Linked DNA regions of Homo sapiens. The protein of the gene in region 2 purifies or fractionates together with the protein of the main gene of each other region. This does not show direct contact. Each region holds a gene or a part of one and is shown on either strand. Other genes may lie near its edges. The genes, in order: SLC35F3 and SLC35G5.

The links.
Region 1: the proteins of SLC35G5 (region 2) and SLC35F3 purify together in Homo sapiens (affinity purification with mass spectrometry; one large-scale study listed by BioGRID and IntAct). This does not show direct contact.

What each region holds. Positions count from the first base shown.
Region 1 is NC_000001.11:234,232,939-234,236,849, reverse strand, and holds part of SLC35F3 (solute carrier family 35 member F3), read right to left. Parts: intron 1-3,911. UniProt on the Homo sapiens protein: Mediates thiamine transport.
Region 2 is NC_000008.11:11,329,549-11,332,860, reverse strand, and holds SLC35G5 (solute carrier family 35 member G5), read right to left. Parts: upstream 1,850-3,312; 5' UTR 1,755-1,849; coding exon 738-1,754; 3' UTR 501-737; downstream 1-500.

The DNA.
Region 1 (3,911 bases), on a different chromosome or scaffold from region 2:
ATCTGTCCACGTGCCCACATAGATATCAAAGAAGTATATGTTGACCTGGATTGACCTCCAGCCTTGTCCTTCATTCCATTTTCTACAGAGTCGCAGCAGCTGCATTTTGAAAGATCCAATCTGATCATTGCTTCCATGACTCCTGATATTCACACTGGAAGTGAAACTCCTCAGCATAGTGTAGGAGGCTTGCCAGCATCTGCTCTGCCTAACTGCTGGGTCTTCTCTTTCACCTTACCCCAATTACATCCTACATCCTAAGAAGAGCTCCGTGCTCTTTGTCCAGGCTGTGTCCTTTATCCAGGCTACTGTCTGCTTAGAATGTTCTTGACCTTCTCCTTCGGCACCTAGAGAACCATCTGCTTGTCCTTAAATAAATTGTTTCTGGCTAACTTCTTTTTTTTTGTTTTGAGACAGGGTCTCACGCTGTTACCCAGGCTGGAGTGCAGTGGTCTGATCACTGCTTATTACAGCCTTAACCTCCCAAGGCTCAGGTGATCCTCCTGCCTAGTCCCCTGAGTAGCTGGGACTACAGGTGCACCATCACGCCTGGCTAATTTTTAGTATTTTTAGTAGAGACAGGGTTTTGCCATGTTGCCAAGGCTGGTCTTGAACTTCTGGGCTCAATCAATCTGCCCTCCTCAGCCCACCAAAGTGCTGGGATTACAGACAAGAGCCACCATGCCAGGCCCTAGCTAACTTCTTCTAAGAAACTTTTGTACCCTGCCCCAGGACACATGTATCTGGACATGTATCTGGGCCTTCCCCCACTCTCAGCTCCCTTGCATGCACCCCCACCCTGTTTGGCTATCTGACTCCCTTTCCAGAGTCCATTTATCTTGTATTTCTAGTGCATTGCCTAGAGAAGACGCACAGTAACTATTTTCAGAACAAAGCTCCGGTTTGCAACTGCTCCACTCTGCTCTTTAGATTTTAAATGGCCGATAAATGTTACAGCTGCAAGACCCGATATGGTTCCTGCGTAAGTCTGGGTGGCAAGGTACACACACCGGGCCCTTGCAGGGTTTAAGATGAAAGGCATCTAAACTGCCCTTTTCCCTTTCTTGGCTCTACTGTTGCTCAGAATATCTGAAGCAGAATCAATTGGCTGGCTTACAGAAAGCCTGGAACTACAAAAGGCAGAGAAAAACATCTGTCACCACTGCACCGTTCACTTTTTTTGGCAGCTGCATGATAGCAGAAGGTCTCAGCATTTGCTTTCGAAAGCAGGTCATTACTGCTGCAAATTCCTGGAAGACCTTTGGACAAGACTGAAAATGCCCCAGATCTGCTCCAGCTCTGCTGACCTCTCAGATCTGAAAAGCTGCATTCCTGTTCCAAGGTCAGAGGGGCCAGGAGGCTGTGTGTCATCACACATGTGCTCAACAGTCTCTCCCAAACACAGACCTGATACAGCCACTTCCCTGTGCCTCCCCTAGATGCTAGGTGGTCCAGGAAACTGTGGTTCCCAAGCACCCTCAAGCGTCTCATGACTGAAGCCCTCTCTGAGTTCTGGGCACTATTGCTTCCTCAGAACATCCTTGTGGCCACCTTCATTGAGAAACAGTGAAGATAAGGGTTGGGCTGCCTATCATATTGGAGAAGGAAGCAGCTCATTGTACTCCTGGATGGTTGAGTGCTTGCTAGGAAGACTAAGGCAGGGGCTGAAAACCCAGATGAGTTAGGCTGAGAGGTTTGCCCATTCACATCTAATTCTTGACAACAGTATCTGATCATGAGAAGCCCTGATCAGTGTTCTTGTATGCCCTGTGAAGGCACTAGGGCCACAAGTTGATTTCTTCAGGACTGACACTTGCATGCAGCATAGGGGTTGGCACTCTCGTAGTTTAAATTGGCCACCACAAGGCAGCTCACGAACAAAGCATGGGCAACAGCCTTCAGTACAACCCACAGAGGCTATCACAACACAGTACTTGTTCCTCGCGTTTACACAGCATGTTACAGTGTATAGGGCGCTTTCATATACAGCGTGTCATTTGATCACACAGCAGTCTTTTGTACAAGACAGTGCATATATCATCACCTCCCATTTACAAATGGGCATCTGAGGCTCTGAGAGCTTTGAGGACTTGCCCACGGAGCCTCCCGTCATGAGTGGCAGAGGACCAGGGCTTGAAGAGGACCAGGGCTCGAACATCCTCTGGGGCTCAATGGAGTCACTCATCAGTTCTACATGGTGAGGTGAATCCTAGTTCTAACATTTGGTAAAATCAGCAGCATTTAAAAAAAAAATCTGTAGCTGGGACTCAACAACTCCAGGGCATTTACAGTTAAAGTGCAGCCTGTGGGCCAGCAGCACTAGGATTCCCTGGAAGTTCCCTAGAAAAGCGGAATCTCAGATCCACTCAGACCCACTGAATCAGAGTCTGCCTTCAACAAGACCCCAGGGAGCCTCACAGGGCGTTGCAGGTTGCGGAGCTCTGTGCTGGGGAACACATGCCTTCCTCTCTCGGCTCCGGCTTCACCCTGGGGAAGCGGCTCAGTTGGGGAGGGTTTAGAGAAAAGAAGCTTCCATCTGATTGCCTCCTGATAACTGCAAGAAAAGCTGCTGTATCTGTCCAGCTCCCCTCTTGGTGGAACAGGTCTCTGTTCATCTCCTTTTCTTCCCAGCTCCCTGCTAAACACTTTTAGCCAAGAGACTCATCTCCTCAGACAAATCAAAATCTTCTCTCTGGCATTAATTTTGATAAAGCATGAAGATGAAAGATGTGATTTCAGTCTTCCTTGATCTCTGAGAATCCTAAAGTCTGTTTAAAGTACTCCCAATATGAGTTGTGACAGAATTGTGATGTCCTAAGGAAGGTCTGTGATGTTAAAATTTTTCTCTCCTTTTGAGGAAGGATCTCTCTTCACCCCTCCAATGGTGTATATGGCTTGATTGACATGCCTAATAATTGGCTGGTAAATTAGCATCTCTGCCTAGCCACGGGGCTAACACAGCTTATAATCAGAAAAAAACAAACAAAAAACAAAACAAAACAAAACAACTTTTTTAAAGAGCTGGAGCAGAATGTGATGACAGAAATTGGGAAAGCTTTTAACCAGTTTACCAATAAAGTTGGGATTATCCTCCCTCTTTTACATTGTTCGCCAGTTAACAGGGCAGTCATCAGATTTTTTAAATGATTCTTTTTGAGCACTTTTTATAGGAAGACAATAGGTTGAAATCAAGGTGCTGATGCTTTTCTATGTATAACTAATCTTCAATGACCTTCCATTTTTTCCTACATTGACCGTATAAGCACCACTTGATCTTGATTCCATCTGTGCGGTTTTCAGCACAATAGTTTAATGGTGCCAGGCCCGCCCTAAGTGGCTGGTGGTGACAGTCTTCCCAGGTAAGTGGTAGCCATGGAGCACATTTGGGACAACAGCCAGTGTTACCACTTGGGGGTCCTCTTTCAGCCTGTATGGTTGAAGGTAGCAGGAAAGAAGAATTTCATCTTCTCTCCCAATAATTCTTGATCAAGAACGTGCATATAAGCTCACTTTGAGCATTTCGTTAGAGGCAGTAGCATACCATCCTAATCAGTTTTAATGAAGGGTTACCGCCTAATTACAAATTAAATACACTTAGGGATACTTAACTGTTAAATACATCATTTACTAAATATTAGCTTTTCTCTGGGACTATTTTACTCTTGCCTTTGGGACAATCTTGGGTGCTAATGATTTGTTTCCTTCTGCTTTTGGCTTCTATTCAGAAGAGGGTGCATTAAGTGCCTCTTTAGCAATTTCTGGCTGGTCCATGAGCCACTGGTTTAGGTCAACCCTGAGGATCAGAATTCTTTGCACCAAATCCGTTTCACTAAGGGGACATGTGAGACTGGCCATGTGATTCTATTCAAGCTCCATCAGAGCCCCCTCCTCCAGAATTCGTGCTCTGATTT
Region 2 (3,312 bases):
TGGGAGGCCAAGGCGGGTGGATCACAAGGTCAGGAGTTTGAGACCAGCCTGGCCAACATAGTGAAACCTCATCTCTACTAAAAATACAAAAATTAGCTGCGTGTGGTGGCATGCACCTGTAATCTCAGCTACTTGGGAGGCTGATGTAGGAGAATTGCTTGAACCCAGAAGGCGGATGTTACAGTGAGCTGAGATCATGCCACTGCACTCCAGCCTGTGTGACAGAGCAAGATTCTGTCTCAGAAAAAAAAAAGCAAAAAACAAAAAACAAACAAACTCTATCGAACCCTTCTAGTGAATTTCTCATCTCAGTTGTCGCACGTTTCAGCTACAAAATTTCTACCTGGTTCCTTTCTATAATTTTTATATTTTTATTGATATTCTCATTTTGTTCAAACATCATTTCTCTGATTTCATTTAGTTGTCTTTTAACTCTTGTGCATATTTAAGACAATTGTTTAGTCTTTGTCTAGTAAGTCCAAAGTCTGGGATTCCTTAAGGATAGTTCAATTAATTTTATTCCTGTAAATAAGCCAGATTTCTCATTTGTTTGCATGCTTTGTGATATTTTTATTATAACTGAACATCTCAATATTATAATGTGCTATGGAAGTTAGACTTTCACTCTTTCCTAGGATTTATTATAATTATTTTTTTTCTTTTATTTTTTTTTTGTCTTCAGTCTTTGTCTTTATTTATCCCTGTCCCTCCCAACCCCCGGGCTCCCAAGTTCTATCTCACTCCTCCACCTTCCCTGTCCTCTCACAGCTGAGGTTCCGGGCTGTAATGATGGCAATGCTGCCCAGCACAACCCCTGCCCCCATGATGTCAGAAAGTGCCACAGTCTCATGGAGCATATAATACTGCAGTATAAGGGCCACAACCACCTCGGAATGCAGGACAGCGCACACCAGGGCAGGGTGGGCCTTGGTGACCGCATAGCCCACACATGTGAAGGAGACCAAGGCGAGGATCCCCTCTGCCCCCACACAACTCCAACTCAGGAGGTCACTGGGCAACACGGGGGTCTGCAGCACAAAGAGGCCTGGCACACAGCCCAGCAGCCCCACCAAGCCAGATAGGAAGGCCACTGTTGGGAGGCAGGAGGGAAAGTGCAGAGAACGATAGACCAGAAGCCCCAGGGACAGCGCCAGGCCTCCCAGGAAAGCCTGCACATAGCCCAGGGTGGTGTAGACACCTGTGGTCCCCTCCTGTAGTGTCCAGAGTCCAGGTCCCAGAATGATGATTAGTCCTAGGATGCTGCCCAACAGTCCACACCACTCGTAGCCACCGAGACCCTGGCTCTCAAGGCAGAGGGTGAGGACAGCGGAGCATACGGTGGAAGAACCTTTGCGAACAGTGGCAGCGTTGCCAGCGGGCACCACCTGAACTGCACTGTAGGCACATCCAATGCTGAGGACGTTGAGCAGGGCACAGAAGCAGGCCCAGCCTCGGATGTCAGGAGGTCCCAGAAGGGGGTCGCCACGCAGTTTAAGTAGCAGGGCAATAGGGAGGTGGAAGAGGCATCGACAGATGAGCAGCTCCAGCGAGGGCAGGTTGGAACCCTGGTAAGCCATACGAGAAAGGGGGCCCACGAAGCCAGCAGGCAGGCCCCCACCCAGCAGGGCCACCAGCAGGCCATTGGTGGCACCAGAGGGCTGGCAGCGCTGGTGCCAGCGGAGGCTGGGTGGAGCGGAGGGCGGCGATGGGTGTGTGGAGTCAGGCAGGTTGAAGTAGGGGTGACTGCCAGCCATCTTTCCTTGGACTTTCTCCTCTCCTCCTGGCTCAGGGAGCCTGGGCCCCTCAGAGCTCCAGCCATTGTGACCTCATTGGAGTGCGGGTGGGGTTCTTCCCTGGAACTCTCCTGAGGTGGTAGCACGCCTATTTTCCCGCTGAGTCCAACTCTGCTTCTTTTCTTTCTTTCTTTCTTTCTTTTTTTTTTTTTTAATTGATCATTCTTGGGTGTTTCTCGCAGAGGGGGATTTGGCAGGGTCATAGGACAATAGTGGAGGGAAGGTCAGCAGATAAACAAGTGAACAAAGGTCTCTGGTTTTCCTAGGCAGAGGACCCTGCGGCCTTCCGCAGTGTTTGTGTCCCTGGGTACTTGAGATTAGGGAGTGGTGATGACTCTTAACGAGCATGCTGTCTTCAAGTATCTGTTTAACAAAGCACATCTTGCACCGCCCTTAATCCATTTAACCCTGAGTGGACACAGCACATGCCCCAGAGAGCACAGGGCTGGGGTCAAGGTCACAGATCAACAGTATCCCAAGGCAGAAGAACCCCTCCCAGTACAGAACAAAATGAAGTCTCCCATGTCTACTTCTTTCTACACAGACACAGCAACAATCTGATTTCTCTATCTTTTCCCCACCTTTCCCCCTTTTCTATTCCACAAAACCGCCATCGTCATCATGGCCCGTTCTCAATGAGCTGTTGGGTACACCTCCCAGACGGGGTGGTGGCCGGGCAGAGGGGCTCCTCACTTCCCAGAAGGGGCAGCCGGGCAGAGGCGCCCCCCACCTCCCTCCCAGACGGGGCAGCTGGCCGGGTGGGGGCTGACCCCCCACCTCCCTCCCGGACAGGGCGGCTGGCCGGTGGGGGGCTGACCCTCCACCTCCCTCCCGGACGGGGCGGCTGGCCAGGCCGCGGCTGACCCCCCACCTCCCTCCCGGACGGGGCGGCTGGCCGGGCGGGGGCTGATCCCCGACCTCCCTCCCGGACGGGGCTGCTGGCCGGGCGGGGGCTGACCTCCCACCTCCCTCCCGGATGGGGCGGCTGCCAGGCGGAGACGCTCCTCACTTCCCAGACGGGGCGGCTGCCGGGCGGGGTGCTCCTCACTTCCCAGACGGGGCAGCTGCCAGGCGGAGGGGCTCCTCACTTCTCAGACAGGGCGGCCGGGCAGAGACGCTTCTCACCTCCCAGACGGGGTCGCAGCCGGGCAGAGGCGCTCCCCACATCTCAGATGATGGGCAGCTGGGCAGAGACGCTCCTCACTTCCTAGACGGGATGGCGGCCAGGAAGAGGCGCTCCTCACTTCCCAGACTGGGCAGCCGGGCAGAGGGGCTCCTCACATCCCAGACGATGGGTGGCCAGGCGGAGACGCTCCTCCCTTCCCAGACGGGGTGGCGGCCGGGCAGAGGCTGCAATCTCAGCACTTTGGGAGGCCAAGGCAGGCGGCTGGGAGGTGGAGGTTGTAGCGAGCCGAGATCACGCCACTGCACTCCAGCCTGGGCAACATTGAGCACTGAGTGAACCAGACTCCGTCTACAATCCCGGCACCTCAGGAGGCCGAGGCTGGCGGATCACTCG